Regions from separate parts of the Homo sapiens genome. Here region 2 is linked to region 1. Evidence: fine-mapped expression QTL. A gene starts in region 1. The other region holds a variant in brackets. All regions are shown on one strand. Distances are between the middles of the regions. Region 1 holds the start of DDB2 (damage specific DNA binding protein 2). Region 2 overlaps DDB2 (damage specific DNA binding protein 2).

Evidence for each region. PIP is the estimated chance that this variant, and not a neighbour inherited with it, causes the effect.
Region 2: its variant is fine-mapped to the expression of DDB2 in prefrontal cortex (BrainSeq, PIP 0.95).

The regions. Positions count from the first base shown.
Region 1 is chr11:47,211,616-47,219,940 of GRCh38, reverse strand. DDB2 (damage specific DNA binding protein 2) reads right to left here and starts at 4,967. Exons shown (of 10, transcript NM_000107.3): 1 at 4,678-4,967; 2 at 3,469-3,605; 3 at 2,892-3,083. The coding sequence starts at 4,804. RefSeq lists enhancers at 4,635-4,914, 4,204-5,403, 5,245-5,484, 4,691-5,526, 5,527-6,363 and a silencer at 4,965-5,174.
Region 2 is chr11:47,233,994-47,242,318 of GRCh38, reverse strand. It overlaps DDB2 (damage specific DNA binding protein 2), which reads right to left. Exons shown (of 10, transcript NM_000107.3): 5 at 7,647-7,746; 6 at 7,385-7,562; 7 at 6,907-7,049; 8 at 4,318-4,482; 9 at 4,136-4,181; 10 at 3,102-3,519. The coding sequence ends at 3,470. ACP2 (acid phosphatase 2, lysosomal) reads left to right here. Exons shown (of 11, transcript NM_001610.4): 11 at 2,070-3,017. The coding sequence ends at 2,203. Among named protein-coding and RNA genes, the nearest start is that of ACP2, 11 kb to the left of the region's middle. The variant A/G (reference allele first, on the strand shown) is at 4,202.

The DNA of each region.
Region 1 (8,325 bases):
TGGCGGGCACCAGTAGTCCCAGCTACTTCGGAGGCTGAGGCAGGAGAATCGCGTGAACCTGGGAGGCGGAGCTTGCAGTGAGCCGAGATTGCGCCACTGCACTCCAGCCTGGGCGGCGGAGTGAGACTCCATCTCAAAAAAATAAACAAATAAATAAATAAAGAGACCTCCTCCTGGGTTCCCCCTCATGTCTACCTTTAAACCAGAGCTAGAAAAATAGTGGACTGAAGCAGAATTCGGCTGAGACGTGTGTTTAGTTTCATTCAGTGCCAATATTAAGACGTTCTAGAGGCCCAGCACAGTGGCTCAGCCCTGTAATCCCGAGCAATTTGGGAAGACAAGACAGAAGGATTGCTTGAGGCCAGTAGTTTGAGACCAGCCTGGGCAATATAGAGAGACCACATCTCTAAAAATTAGCCAGGCATGGTGGTGCGTACCTGTAGTCCCTGATACATGGGAGGCTGAAGCCGGAGGATTCCTTGAGTCAGGAAGGTGGAGGCTGCAGTGAGCTATGGTTGTGTCACTGCACTCCAGCCTGGGTGACAGAATGAGACTCAAAAAATAAAAATAAAAAAAAATAATGAAGTTCTGGAGACTGCTTACACAATTTACCCAACGCCATTGAACTGTGCACTTTAAAATGGTTACGAAAGTAAATTTCATGTTATATGTATTTTATCATTATTTTTTAAAAAGTTGGCTGGGGGCGGTGGCTCACGCCTGTAATCCCAGCACTTTGGGAGGCCGAGGCAGGCAGATCACAAGGTCAGGAGATAGAGACCATCGTGGCTAACACGGTGAAACCCCATCTCTACTAAAAATACAAAAATTAGCCAGGCGTGGCAGCATGCACCTGCAGTCCCAGCTGCTGGGGAGGCTGAGGCAGGAGAATGGCATGAATCCGGGAGGCGGAGCTTGCAGTGAGCCAAGATTGCGCCACTGCACTCCAGCCTGGGTGACAGAGCGAGAGTCCGCCTCAAAAAAAAAACACTTTTAAATGGTTAAGGTGATACATTTTATGTTACGTGTATTTTACAATTTTTTTTAAAACTCAAGATATATGACATTTAAAAAATGAGGATTTGTGTCTTTGTTTGAGAAAAATCACATCTGATATCAAAAGACCTACATTTTTGCACAACAGTCATCTCTAGTTTACCCCTGACCCTACCACCATACATTCTTTTTTTTTTTTTTTCCACTCTGGCTTCTGGAGCCCTATAAGTTTGTGACTCCTGCTCTAAACCCAGTGTCACTTTTCACAGCACAGCCCTCCAATGTCAGCCACCAGCTGGGCTGGCTAAAGGTCCTAGAGGGGACGACACACTCACCCCTCAGCAATGGATGATAAACTCTAGCACAACAAAGACCATTCCCAAGAACTCTGTGCCAAACCTCACCCAGTCACACTATGTCTTTCCTTCTTTTCTCTCCATTTATCTAATACTGCTCCTCCTCGCTCATCCATGGAGTCTTCTTTATTGACTCCAATTCACAAGGGGTTCTTCCTTCTTTCACATTCTGTAGCACTTGGCATCTGTATTGTTAATTACCTCGTATGTATACATCCCATCTGCTCAATTACACTTCAAGCCCCTCACTCATTCAACAAATATAAAGCAGCTACTCTAGGCCAAACTTTGTTCCAGGCACTGGGAATAGGATGGTGAACCAGAAAGGAAAGGTCCCTGCCATCAGTGGGCAAACATACAAATAAGCATCAGATCTCAGACACCCATCAACACTTGGGGGAAACATGAAGCAGGGTAATGATACAGGGAATGACGGTGGAGGAGTGGGATCTACGTTATGAGTAAGGACAACCAGCGAAAGCCTCTTTGAAGAGGTAGAATCAGCAAAGACCTGCAGAGAAGACGCCAGCCATGAGAAGACCATGGGGGAAAAGCACTCCAGTCAAAGGGAACAGCAATTACAGAGACCCGGTTTCAGGAATAGAAACAGCTGGTGTGGCTACAGCATAGAAGTGAGAAAAGACAATGGCGTAAGATGAGGTCAATGTGGTAAGAAGGGGCTTCAATTCTTTTTTTTTGAGATGGAGTCTCGCTCTGTTGCCCAGGCTGGAGTGCAGTGGCGTGATTTCGGCTCACTGCAACCTTCGCCTCCCGGGTTCAAGCGATTCTCCTGCCTCAGTGTCCCAAGTAGCTGGGACTACAGGCGCACACCACCACATCCAGCTAATTTTTTGTATCTTTAGTAGAGACGGGGTTTCACCATGTTGGCCAGGATGGTCTCCATCTCTTGACCTCGTGGTCAGCCCACCTTGGCCTCCCAAAGTGCTAGGATTACAGGCCTGAGCCACTGCGCCCAGCCCAGAAGGGGCTTCAATTCTATGGGTGATCAATAGTCTATATCTTCTAGTATTTTAAGGACAGGCATTAGAAAAATATATATCATCATCATTTACGTATTTGAAAATGCCCACAGTTAATTTTGATCCCAGTCCTCTTCCTGATGATTACTGGATGACATCAATATTCCTTTCATGCCTTCAACAAACACTCCTTATTTTTATTTTCTTTTATTATTATTATTATTATTATTTTGAGATGGAGTTTCACTCTTGTTGCCCAGGCTGGAGTGTAATGGTGCAATCTTGGCTCACTGCAACCTCTGCCTCCCGGGTTCAAGCAATTCTCCTGCCTCAGCCTCCTGAGTAGCTGGGATTATAGGCGCCTGCCACCACACCCAGCTAATTTTTGTATTTTTAGTAGAGACGGGGTTTCACCATGTTGGCCAGGCTGGTCTCAAACTCCATACCTCAGGTGATCCACCCACCTTGGCCTCCCAAAGTGCTGGGATTACAGGTGCGAACCACTGCACCCAGCCAACAAACACTTCTTTAGCACGACCTGGCATGGGGAACTGCTCACCCCTTTGATGAAGGTGGGTTTGTCCTTGATGCCAAAATTCCAGAGCATGATATCTCCCCCTTTGGAACCCACAGCCACGGTGCTGGGGTGAGTTGGGTGCCACGCCAAGGATGTAGCCCTCCTGTCAAAGGGGGCAGCCTTTTGTAATATCCGGTAAGAATCCAGAGTGTGCAAAAAGGACTGCTGGAGCCCCTGCCACAGAGAGAAATGAATTAGGTTGAATTAAAACCCAAGTTCTGGGTAAACTGCCAATCTCTGCCTCCTTCATGGATGAGCCCTAGATCCAAGTCCTCCCACCAAAGGAAAGCTAACTGCCTGCCCTGTGCATGAAAATATTTGCAATGTACACGAACGAATAATCTTGGAAAGCAAAAGGGGCAGAGTGCATTCCAGCTGGGACCTTTACAACATAAGACATTTTTTACCTGGCTGAGTGCCCAGTAGGCCAGTCACCACAGTCTGGGTGATCGGACCACTCTGACAAGCTGGTGAACCAAGCCATCATCTAATTTGGGAGCATGCAATAGTAAAAATGCACGTGTAAACCCTTGAGGACTTGAGGCAAAAAATGCCTTACCTGCTGGACAGATGGCCAGGAAGCTCTGCCCAGCTTATGCTGGTGGAGGGTCCTGACGATGCTGCGGCATGGTGGCAGGATCTGTGGGCCAGCCAGCCCCACCCAGAGGCAGTCTGAGTCACATCTTCTGCTAGGACCTGCCAAGCAGAACAGACATATTTTCCTCTCCAATCTCACGAAAGGTTTTTCTGCTGAATTCCCCGAAAGGAAGCCTTGTTTCATTCGGCACGGTTAATCTCTGTCTCATCACCTCCTGCGGCCTTTCCATGTCTGTGTGGTCTCAACGAGCACCAGAAATAAAAAAATGAGTGAGGATTTGGCCCCTTCCCCAAAACACTCCCACAAACAGTAAGTCTGAAGTGAAAGTAAATACAGTCGTGCAGGGTTCCTGAGACCCCAGCCAAAGAAACACACAAGGATAAAGTACAATGCAGAACTCTTCCCAGTTTGGGCTGCAAAACTCGAGATGGGACTGGGTCACAATTTTATAAATCACATATAATGCACAATAAAAAGATTTTAGGGCAGCATGGCAGAAGTCACCGTTTAGGAAAAGAAGGAATAGGAAGGCCTGGAAATGCTCTTAACTAGGTTACTTCTGGGGAGGTAAGTGAAATTAGAATAGCAATAAAGCAACAACTCCTGATCACCAAACTGTATTTGAGGACCCAATCACTATAGGTCCGACGTCTTGACAACCAATTCTTTCTTCTCATGGACAAAAACCACTTGATTAACAAGCCCCAGCTCGTTTTTGAGTGTCTCGAAACTCCTTATAGCCCCAGGTTCAAGCCCCAGTAAACCTCAGAGAATGAGCTTTCTAAGGAGGAAGGAATTGGGGGCTCTCACAACTGACCACCGAGGACGTGCAGCTAACAAGCGTGACTATGAAATCCAGCACACACAGCGCCAGGAAAGGTAGGATTCTCTGAAGCCGTCCTAACTGTGCAAGAACCCTGATACGAACAAGGAATCTGACAAGTCCGTGTGTCTGTTGTTACGGAGCTCATCTGCTTCCTGTTACCTAGCGGGAGAGGTGTTGAAACCTAAACACTCTGGTGTCAAAGGACCTGCAGGTAGAATGCACAGCCGGAGGCACCCGTGACCTGCGCGGGCCTCGGGAGCCTCGGAGCACCCATCCCCCGCTGCAGCCTCCTGCGCGAGCACCCTAAAAGGCGGAAATATTCAAGCAGCAGGCACAGGCAGTACCGGAGCCCTTCGCACAGAGCTTCTTGGCCTCGGGCTCCAGCTCCAGGGGACTCCTGCTCCTCTTGTTCCTGGGGCGTAATACAATCTCGGAGGTCTTCTGGGTTTCTGGGCGTTTCTTGGGAGCCATCGCGTCCTCCGTGTGAAGGGGTACTGTGCTCTATGCGAAGATCATGGAGGGAGGATTGAGAGGCCTCTGGGGAGAAACAAGGCGGGGACTACAAAACTGCGGGGCCACAGGTAGCCGAGCTAAGCCAACTTCCCGCCAAACATGCCCAGGGCTTGTTCAAACCAGCTTGGAGCTCCGGCCCCACCCGTCTCGGAGACCCCGCCCCTTCCTGGAAGGCGGGGGCGCGGGGAGGGGGTGGTGCCAAGGGGCGGTGCCAGCGCTCCCGGGAGGGGCGGGAACTGCGCCAGGGCCAGTGCCAGCCCGGGTCAGCTGACCTCCCTGGAGCAAAGATGGTCCCCGGCTTTATGGATTTTTTTTTTTTTTTTAGCAACAGGGTCTGGCTCTGTCGCTCACTCTGGAGGGCAGTGGGGCGATCATAGCTCAGTGCAGCCTCCACCTCCTGGGCTCAAGCGATCCTCCCACCTCAGCCTCCTAAGTAGATGGGACTACAAGCGTACGCCACCACGCCCGGCTAATTTCTCTCTCTCTCTCTCTTTTTTTCTTTTTCTGGAGAGACGGGGTCTCGCTTTGTTGTCCGGGCCGGTCTTTAACTCCTGGGCTTAAGCGATCATCCAGCCTTGACTTCCTGACACGAACCCTCCTCAAACGCGGCGCTGCCAGGCCTCTGCGGGTCCGGGGAGGAGGCCCGGTGCCAGCCAAGGCTCTGTCTCCCGCCTTGCAATTGGTGATGACGCCCGCTCGGGCTTTGGGATTGGCTGGTCCCTACAGGGTGTAGTTGGGGAGTGGCGGCTTTGTAGAGAGCTAGTGCCTTTCCTAAGTTAGAAGCTGGGCTCTACCAGCGGTCAGCTTTGCAGTCGGATTCCAGAAACTACAGTCCCATCGAATCCAAGCTGCTTCTCTGTGAAGGGAGAATGATTGGAACTCCTTGCCTTTTTTTTTTTTTTTTTTTTTTTTTCCTAGAGGCAGTGTCTCTCTTCCGTTACCCAGGCTGGAGTGCAGTGATGTAATCACAGCTCACTGCAGCCTTGACCTCAAGTTTCACTGATCCTCCCACCTCAGCCTCCCAAGTAGGCTTGCAGACCTGTATCCCCAAGCCTAATTTTTTTATTTTTATTTTTGTAGAGACAAGGTCTTGCTATGTTTCCCACGTTGGTCTGGACCTCCTGGGCTCAAGTGATCCTCCTGCCTCTGCCTCCCAAAGTGCTGGGATTACAGGCATGAGCCACCGTGTCTGGTTCTCACTGCTCTTTTATTTGTTTGGTCGTTGGCTGTTTTTATTTTTTCTTTCTTTCTTTCTCTCTTTCTTTTTTTTTTTTTTTTTTTTGAGACAGGGCCTCTCTCTGTCACCCAGGCTGGAGTGCAGTGGCAGGATGTGGGCTCAATGCAGGCTGGACTTCCTGGACATCGATCCTCCCACCTCAGCCTCCCGAGTAGCTGGGACTACAGGTGCGCGCCGCAACACTCAGCTAATTTTTGCATTTTTTGTAGAGACAGAGTCTCCCTAAGTTGCCTAGGCTGGTCTAGAACTCCTGGCATCCATCCACCTCGGTCTGCCAAAGTGCTGAGATTACAGGTGTGAGCCACTGTGCCCAGCCTCCTCACTGCTTTTTTTTTTTTTTTTTTTTTGAGACGGAGTCTCACTCTGTTGCCCAGGCCGGAGTGCAGTGGCACAATCTCGGCTCACTGCAATCTCCGCCTCCCGGGTTCAAGCGATTCCCCTGCCTCAGTCTCCGGAGCAGCTGGGACTAGAGGCACACACCACCACGCCTGACTAATTTTTTGTATTTTAGTAGAGACAGGGTTTCACCATGTTGGCCAGGATGGTCTCGATCTTCTGACCTTGTGATCTGCCTGCCTCGGCCTCCCAAAATGCTGGGATTATAGGCGTGAGCCACCATGCCCAGCCTCTTGGCCTCTCACTGCTTTTAACTAAGACTTGCCTAACCTGTTGGGTGTCCACCTAGGAGCAGCCTGGGACGTGATGGGCCAGAGGGCGTGCAGCCAGCGGTACTTAGAACTCCTACGCCCTCGCTTCAGCCAAAGTCCAAGTCTTGAAGGTTCACAGGTGAGGCCGCGCTGTCCTGCCTAGCCTGAGAAGAGACAGTTTGGATGCACCCTAGTTTCTGCGAAGAGGCAGGCAGGAGTTGGGCTTACTCAGGCATTGCTGGGCCTTTCCTCCACCCACTAAGCCCCGTGCCTGACAGTTTGTGGGGGTGGGAGGAGATATACAAAAATGCATTAATGGTAGGCCATCGCATTGGCTCAAGCCTGTAATCCCAGCACTTTGGGAGCCTAAGGCAGGTGAATCACTTGAGGCCAGGAGTTCAAGACCAGCCGGGCCAACATGGTGAAACCCTTTCTCTACTAAAAATACCATCAGGCGCAGTGGCTCATGCCTGTAATCCCAGCGCTTTGGGAGGATGAAGCAGGCAGATCACTTGAGGTCAGGAGTTCGAGACTAGCCTGACCAACATGGTGAAACCCCGTCTCTACTAAAAATACAAAAATTAGCTGGGGCGTGGTGGCACTTGCCTGTGGTCCCAGCTACTCAGGAGGCTGAGGTAGGAGAATCGCTTGAACCGAGGAGAGGGAGGCTGCAGTGAGCCAAGATCATGCCACAGCATTCCAGCCTAGGCGACAGAGCAAGACTCCAACTCAAAAAAATAAAAATAAAAATAAATAAATATAAAAAATTAGCTGGGCATCATGGCACGCACCTGTAATCCCAGCTATTCAGGAGGCTGAGGCAGGAGAATCACTTGAACCTGGGAGGCAGAGGTTTCAGTGAGCTGAGATAGCGCCACTGCACTCTAGCCTGGGTTACAGAGTAAGACTCCATCTCAAAATAAACAAACAAAAAATAATAATTTGTTTAATGCATTAATGGTAGATCCTACTCTCAAGGATTTTTCAGACAGATAGGGACAGAAGATGTTACCAAAATCAACTCTTGGTCCAGTGTGGTGGCTCATGCTGGTAATCTCAGCACTTCGAGAGGGCAAGAGGATAGGATCGCTTCAGCCCAGGAGTTGGAGATCAGCCTCAGCAATACTGAGACCCCTGTCTAAAAAATTAGAAAATACACAACTTAGCTAGGTGCGGTAGCACACGCCTGTAGTCCCAGCTACTTGGGAGGCCAAGGCAGGAGGATCGCTTAAGCCCAGGAGTTTGGGACTGCAGTGAGCTACAATTGTGCCACTGCACTCCAGCCCGGATGACAGAGGTTTACCCTGTTTCTAAATAAATAAATAAAAATTGGCCAGGCGCAGTGGCTCACGCCTGTAATTCCAGCACTTTGGGAGGCCGAGGCGGCCGGATCACCTGAGGTCGGGAGTTCGAGACCTGCCTGACCAACATGGAGAAAACCCATCTCTAGTGAAAATACAAAATTAGCAGGGCATGGTGGCACATGCCTGTAATCCCAGCTACTCAGGAGCCTGAGGCAGGACAATCACTTGGACCCAGGAGGCGAAGGTTGCGGTGAGCCAAGATGGCGTGATAGCCCTCCAGCCTGGGCAACA
Region 2 (8,325 bases), 22 kb before region 1:
CTTCCCTCTCAGAATGGAATCCTTGAAAGAGCTGCCTAGAATCTGGCTCTGCTTCCTCACCACTTGTTCTCTTAGACTCACATTAGACAGTCTTGTGTCACCTTCCACTACCCTGAAGCCATACTTGTCTGGTGACCAGTCACCTCCTACCAAAGCCAGTGACTAATTCTTAGCTTCTCTCACCTCTCAGCAGCATTACATAATTGGTCACCCCTTCCTGAAACACTTTCTTGGCTTCTGACTTTCAGGCGTCCCTTCCTCACTAAAGAACGGATGACCCAGGACTCATCCCTGGAGCTTTCCCCATCTGTGCACACTCCCAAGTGATCTCATGCAGCCTCATGACTTTATGCCCATCTCCATGCCCACTTCTGTCCTTACGCCCTGACTCACAGATTCACAACCTCTTCTCTGAGCTAGAGACTCATATCCAGCTGCCAACTTGAGATCTCTACATGCATGTTAAGTAAGGCATCTCAAAGTTGCAATGTCTAAAACCAGATGCTTTTCCTTCCACAGCTGCTCTTCTTCCAGGCTTCCTTGTTTCAGTCAATGCCACGAGTCACCTAGTGGCACAGTATAACCCTTGGGGTCATTCTGCATACCGTTTCTCATACCCCTCATCCAGCCCACTGCCAGATCAGCTCAACCTTTCAAATATTAATATGTGCTCTTGCCTCCGCAGTCCAATCTACCGTCAGCTCTTGCCTGACCGAATGAAAAGCTTCCTAGTTCTTTCTGGTTCTATTCTTGTCCCTACCAGTCTTTCAACACAGCAGAGTTAACTTTTTTTATTTTTTTGAGATGGAGTTTTGCTCTTGTTGCCCAGGCTGGAGTGCAGTGGCGCAATCTCGGCTCACTGCAACCTCCGCCTCCCGGGTGTAAGTGATTCTCCTGCCTCAGCCTCCCGAGTAGCTGGGATTACAGGCATGCATCACCATGCCCAGCTGATTTTGTATTTTCAGTAGAGATGAGGTTTCTCCATGTTGGTCAGGCTGGTCTCAAACTCCCAACCTCAGGTGATCCGCCCGCCTTAGTCTCCCAAATTGCTGGGATTACAGGCATGAGCCACCGCGGCCGACTGAGTTAACTTTTAAAAAATGTAAACCAGTTCATACTACTGTCCTCTCAGAATTTTCTAGTGGCTTCCCATCACATATAGAATAAAATCCAAGTTCTTCACCATGGCCTTCTAGGCCCTACTCCATCTGGTCTCCTGCCCCATCTCCTACATGCCCCTTGCTTACTCTACTCTGGTGAGACTGACTCTTGATGATACTAGCATGTGCCAGGCTTATCCCCACATCTGGGCCTTTTGCCCTTCGTCTCCTCTGCCCTGTGATACTCTTCTCAGATTGTTGTATGTCATTCATTGACTCCAGGTCTCTGTTAAACTTCTCACTTTCTCAATGATGCCTTCCCTGCTGACCTACTTTGCTTTGTCTCTCTGTATCACATTCGTCACTGACCTGTCACTCCTAATTTTTTTTTTTTTTTTGAGACGGTGTCTCATCCTGTCACCCAGGCTGGAGTGCAGTGGCGTGATCTCGGCTCACTGCAACCTCTGTCTCCCAGGTTCAAGCAATTCTCCTGCCTCAGCCTCCCGAGTAGTTGGGATTACAGGTGCACACCACCATGCCCAGCTAATTTTTTGTATTTTTAGTAGAGACGGCATTTCACCACGTTGGCCAGGCTGGTCTCAAACTCTTGACCTCAGGTGATCCACCCACCTCGGCCTCCCAAAGTGCTGGGATTACAGGTGTGAGCCACTGCGCACGGCCAACTTTATTTAGTAGAGATGGGTTTTCACCATGATGGCCAGGCTGGTCTCCAACTCCTGACCTCAGGTGATCTGCCCACCTCAACCTTCCAAAGTGTTGGGATTATAGGCGTGAGCCACTGTGACCAGCCCATTTGCTTATTTATTACATCCCCTCTCCTAGAATGTAAACTCCATGAGAGCAGGGACTCTGTCTTGGCCACCTCTGTGTATCTCCTATATGTCAGAACAGTAGCTGGCATATGATGGAACGCTGACATGACCTTTCTCTTGCCTCCCCCATGCCCAGAGGTGATTGTGGCCTTGGCTGTATGTGGCTCCATCCTCTTCCTCCTCATAGTGCTGCTCCTCACCGTCCTCTTCCGGATGCAGGCCCAGCCTCCTGGCTACCGCCACGTCGCAGATGGGGAGGACCACGCCTGACAACCACTCAGCCCCCTTCCCTCCACCTCCTAGGGGAGGTGGGCTGGGCCCTCGCTCCTGACTGTTGCTGCTCCCCAGCCCATGGACAGGAGATCCTGGGTTGGGCCTCCCTCTGATGACCCCAGCCAGATGAGCGAGTGGGGCTCAGCGTGGCCCATGGTGCCTGTCACTCAGCATTCCCATGCCTGATGTTTACCAAGTGCTGTGTTGGACACTGGCTTTCTCCAAACAGGATTTGCCTCCTCCACGCTCCCTACACACCTGAGATGTAAACTGGCAGTCAGTGTTCACTCAGGACCTAGGATTAGAAAATGGCAGAGTTGGTGCTGGATCCACCTTGCACTTCTATCAAGCCCTGTTCTTTTTCCTCCAGCCTGAAGTCTTCGGCAAATAGCTCAGAGGGACACGGTCTTGCCTCTCAGTGCTTATTTTAGTGGGAAAAACAGCTAATACCAGGGGTACAAACATTGGCTCCCAAGGAACTGGATCACCCAACAGCCAGCCAGCCACATTTCCCTGTGTCTGGCTAGAGCCACCATTAGACTCAGACAGAATGCTTCAGGAATCGTTGTCACCCCTTCAACTGGAGCAGGACGGAAGGTTGTCTGTACTTGGGAGGGAGTAGGGAGTGGTGGGAAGGGAGTTGCTTGTCACACGAATCAGGAAACTGCTCTCCCTCAGCTGGGCTGGGGTCTCCAGGGACCTGAGCTACATGCAGGTTGTGAGCTGGAAAAGAAAGTTCTAGACTGTGGCCCAGAATAGGGCTGGGGCAGCTCCCAGAGAATGAATAGTGCTGTTTCCTATTGGACTGATAGTGCTGTTTCCTGTGCTTTTTCTTCATTTCTGAGACGCAAGAAGCTCTCTGACCAGGTCACTTCTGGAAGATCCACGCAGAAGCTCAGTCGGTATGGTTTTATTGGCCATATCAAAAGTGAGCACAAATCAAATAACTGCTTGATCCCTCTGCTACCACCCACTGAGAGGAGAAAAGTCATTTAGTTCCAAGATAACCTTGGTTCCAGGCTAGATACAGAGGGGCCCTTGGGACAGCTGTGTCACCAACTCTGGAGCAGTCTCTGGAGGCAAGTCCAGAGCATTAACATAAAAGTGTCCCAGTCCCACAGTGCCCCAGGTCCCAGCACCCCTGCTCCAACCCTAACCTTGGATACTTTTGGCCCTTTAACAAATCGCCACCTCTGCTTGCAGGACTTGATCCCATGTGTGGGCTCCAAGGCCTTGTCTGGCCCACACCTTCTTTAGTGTCTCTCACTTCCGTGTCCTGGCTTCCTCCTGGCTCCAGATGAGAATGTGGTAACCTAGGAAGAGTGAGACCAGTCTGACTTACACTTTCTGTTACCAATCTCTCAGAGCCTGGGGCTGGCCCGCAAACCTACAATTTGGTAAAGAAATACTAGGAAGGCCGGGCGCGGTGGCTCAAGTCTGTAATCCCAGCACTTTGGGAGGCTGAGGTGGGCGGATCACGAGGTCAGGAGACCGAGACCATCCTGGCTAACACGGTGAAACCCTGTCTCTACTAAAAATACAAAAAATTAGCTGGGCGTGGTAGCGGGCACCTGTAGTCCTAGCTACTCGAGAGGTTGAGGCAGGAGAATGGCGTGAACCCAGGAGGCGGAGCTTGCATTGAGCCAAGATCACGCCACTGCACTCCAGCCCGGGGGGACAGAGCGAGACTCCGTCTCAAAAAAAAAAAAGAAATACTAGGAAACTGGACAGTAGCCAGGCATTGCATGACCAAGACAAAGCCAGAGGAATGGAGGGCCTTGGCTATAGAGACCACTGTCTCCCAGCCATCTTCTTCGTGGGCCACTGCCCTGGGGTGAATGTGGCAGGGCGGGGCTGAGGCTGGCCCGCACTGAACCTTGGGAAGTAGGATCGGACTTGGCAAGTCAGAGACATTCTCCTCCTACTCACCCATTGCAGAGGCCAGCGTGTCCCCCATGGGATTGAATTCATTAAGCTGCAGAGACAAGAGTGTCA[A/G]CATGAGGAGAGGGTGAAGGTATTAGCAGAGACACCTGATTTCTGGTCACTTTTGGTCAATAAGGTAGGTTGAATCCCTGCTTCCTCCCATCATTATTTGAGGACCCAAGCCTCACCGAACTGATGCCAGAAGATTCTGGGTCATAGAGCTGACACATCATCTTCCCTGAGTTTCCATCGAACACGTCGATCGTCCTCAATTCATAAGGGGTACAACTTTTGAAATTAGGATCTGGGTATCGGCCCACAACAATGAGGTTGTAGCGAGGATGCCAGGCTGCCTAGGAGATGGAGAGGCCGGCCATGAGGGTAAACACAGAACATGATCAAGGGGGACATCAAAAACAAATATGAACAAAGAGGAACATCAAAAGTATTCTTTGGGCTGAGTGCAGTGGCTCACACCTGTAATCTCAACACTTTGGGAGGCTGAGGCAGGCGGATCACGAGGTCAGGAGATCGAGACCATCCTGGCTAACATGGTGAAACCCCGTCCCTACTAAAAATACCAAAAAAAAAATTAGCTGGGCGTGGTGGTACATGCCTGTAGTCCCAGCTACTTGGGAGGCTGAGGCAGGGGAATCACTTGAACCCGGGAGGCGGAGGTTGCAGTGAGTGAAGATCATGTCACTGCACTCCAGCCTAGGTGACAGAGCAAGACTCTCAAAAAAAAAAAAAAAAAAGTAGTATTTGCCAGTAACAAGCCAACCTAATAATGGAGATAAGTCTTACAGAAAACTACAAGAATGGTTTTAGGTTGTGTGTGCCTCTGCCATTGCACATTTTTAATCCCTAGCTGGCCTCCCTGGCCCTTAGGGCACCTTCAGGCCTTCTCCCTCATTTGCATTTCCTAAGATCATACCAACTGGTAAACGTTTTAACATCAGCCTGACCCAGATACTGACCTAAGAGGCCTACAACAAAGCAGAAAAAGCCTCTGGTGACCAAACCCTAACAGGACTTGAGTTCTGGAGGAGCCCCACTGTCATCCTGTCTCCATCAACACGAATAACTAAGAGCTGAGTGTAAAATTGCTAATGGCTAAAAAAGAGAAGGAAACCCACATTCCCCAGATCACCCCACTAAAAACAAATCTGGCAGTTATTAAAATGGCAGAATTGGATGGGATTTTCCTAAACTTCTCAAGGAAGTTTTGAAGGAAGAAAGACATGGTTAGCAGGAAGGAAGAAATAGTACATGCGAAGGCTTAGAAATAAGTCACAAATCACACACAGGAAGCTGTAATGACTTACGACACCTGGCTAGATACAAACTGGGACATGCAGACAGATGGATTATCGGGAACACTGATGGATTAACAGGAACACCAACTGGGGAAGGATTCTTGACATTATTTATTAAGAGCTTGGATGTGATTGAGGTACGTGGGGGCCACTCAATATTCAATCATCATTTATTGAATACTTACCAGTACTTACCAGGTGCTGGGCATGGGGCCAAGTGCTTTAAGTATACTGACTCATCTTCACAACAACCCTATCAGTTAGAGACTAGTATTCCCTTTTTGCAGATGAGGAAACAGATCCAAAATATAAGTAATTTGCCCAAGGATTCTAACCCGGGGGGTCTGGCTGCTGGAAACTGGCGCTCCCCACCACTATTCTGAACTGACCAGAGAAGTATAGGCATAAAACCTGAAGATCTGAAGAGGATCTGTAGTTTTGGAAAAGAATGCAGAACTAGCAGAGCTCAGTCTGCATGGGGGCTTAGGCAAAAAGGCATCAAAGGACTTGAAAGCTATTAGTGTTGGGGACTAATGATAGAGAAGCTATTAACAAGAGCCTGAGAAAAGGTGGGAAAATAAAAGACTTATTTTTATTATTAGAAGCACTGAAACCTGCAAGACAAACTAAGAAGGCAAAGTTGCCAGGCGCAGTGGCTCATGCCTGTAATCCTAGCACTTTGGGAGGCCAAGGTTGGGGGATGGCTTCAACCTAGGAGTTCAAGACCAGCTTGGGCAACATGGCAAAACCCCATCTCTATAAAAAATAAAAAAATTAGCTGGGTATGGTGGCGCATACCTGTAGTCCAATCTACTTCCGAGGCTAAGGCGGAAGGATTGCTTGAACCCAGGAGGTTGAGGCTGCAGTGAGCTATGTTTGTGCCACTGCACTCCAGCCTGGGTGACAGAGCAAGACCGTTTCAAGAAAAAAAAAAAAAAAAAAAAAAAGGATCAGCCTGGGTAACACAAGAATACCCTGTCTCTACAAAAAAAAAAAAAGTGAGGCAGGAGGATCGCTTGAGCCTGGGAGATCAAGGCTGTAATGAACCATGCTTGCCCCACTGTACTCCCACCTGGGTGACAGAGCGAGACCCTGCCTTAAAAAAAATAATAAAAAAATAAAAAATGAAGGTTTGTGGGTCAACTGTACACAGGTAACTGAAGCTGAGAAGACAGAACAGAGGGTCAGGATCTTAGAAAATTCTCACAGTGAGATCAGAGCTGGGCTGAAAAAACTCAGAAAAATATCTTATCAGCGAGACAGAAAACTCAACCATATGGGATGGCAGAAGTGGGATAAAAGGAAGAGAGAGAGCCAATGGGTAAGAGATGCTCTGTGCTCGGGCCAGGAGCGATCTGGGGTGGCAGGCTTACCACATCAGCCCTTCCCCACTGTGGGCAGACCTGCTCCGGCCTCATGATCACAGCCTCCTTCTGCGAGCTCCTTCCCACCGCCACTCACCTTGATGGGTGTGAGGTGCTGGAAGTGACGGTGAGGGTGCGGGATCAGGCCCAGGGGGCAGTCCCACTGGGAAGCAGAGTAAACTCGGATCTCGCTCTTCTGGTCCGTGGTCAGGAGCCGGGCTCCATCGGGACTGAAACAAGCTGGCAAAGTGAAAAGCCCCTGAGCTGAAGGAACCACAAGCCCTCTGTGGTCCTGGCCTTGCAGGCCTTCTCCTGCAGGGGTACTCTCCCTCCCACTCCTCTCTAGACAGGAGCGGAAAGGAAGAGGTGAATCTGGGCTGTGAACAACAACAAAAAAATTCTGGAAACTCAGCAGCTGATGGGGACAGCCACAGCCACAAAGGTTCCCAGACATCAGCTTGGCAGACGCTATCAGGGGTAAAGGTTTGACGTAGTGGCTTCCACACTGAGGGAAAACCCCAGCAGTGGTCAGACAGGCAGGGTCTGCAGGAGAGATGAGGTCTGGGATATCACACCTGCGTTGACAGGATGCCTGTGCGGCAGCGAGTAGAGGAAGCTGGCTTTCCCTCTAACCTGGCGCAGGTCCCAAATTTTCACTGTTTGATCTACGGAGGCTGTGGCCAGGAACCAATCACAGCATGGGTTCAGGGCCACATGCGTCACTTTCTTTTTGTGCATTCTGAGATTCCAAAGCTGCAGAGAAGAGCTCGGTTCAGGTGGGGACACAGAACCGAGGTGGGGGTGAGGGAGGGAAAGGCAGGACCTCGGAGAACGCACCTCTTTGCCGTCCATGTTCAGCAGGATCACGTTCCCCACGTTGTCTCCTGTGACCACCATTCGGCTACTAGCAGACACATCCAGGCTACAAAACCAGATGCTGGAGGGAGAGACTGTGTTGTAAGATTCTTGGGGACAGAGATAGTCCTATTTACTCACTGTTGCCGCTCCGGTGACTAACCCACAGCGGGCATTCAATAAATATTTGTTGAATGAATGAATAACTGTCTTGCCGTGGATTCCTAGTGAGGAACATTCAGACTGCTCTACCGTCCAGACAGAGGGGATGGGATAATGGGGCTCAGAAATCTGTCTGGTTATGGCTGGGCCCAGGATCCCCAGCTCCTAAAAGTCCCTGAAGCAGACAAAGCTTATACCATAAAGCAAGCCCTGAGGCACGCCTGCCCCCCACACCCCGGGTTCTGAGCAAGCCTCCTTTACTGCTCTCTCCTTTCACTCTTCACCCTTTAGGCCAAAGGAGACACAAGCCAAAGAGGGATTGCCTGGCCCTGTTCCTCAGAGCTGGCTAGAAAAGCACTTCTGCCCCCTTCTGAACACTGGGGGAAAAAACACAACCAGGAGCTCTTCTGGTCCCTCAAACCACTGGACTGGGAGGCTGACTAGGAGGGTGCTTCAGGGATCCTGCTATTCAGCCAGAAGAGCTCAGCTCACAGTTTTT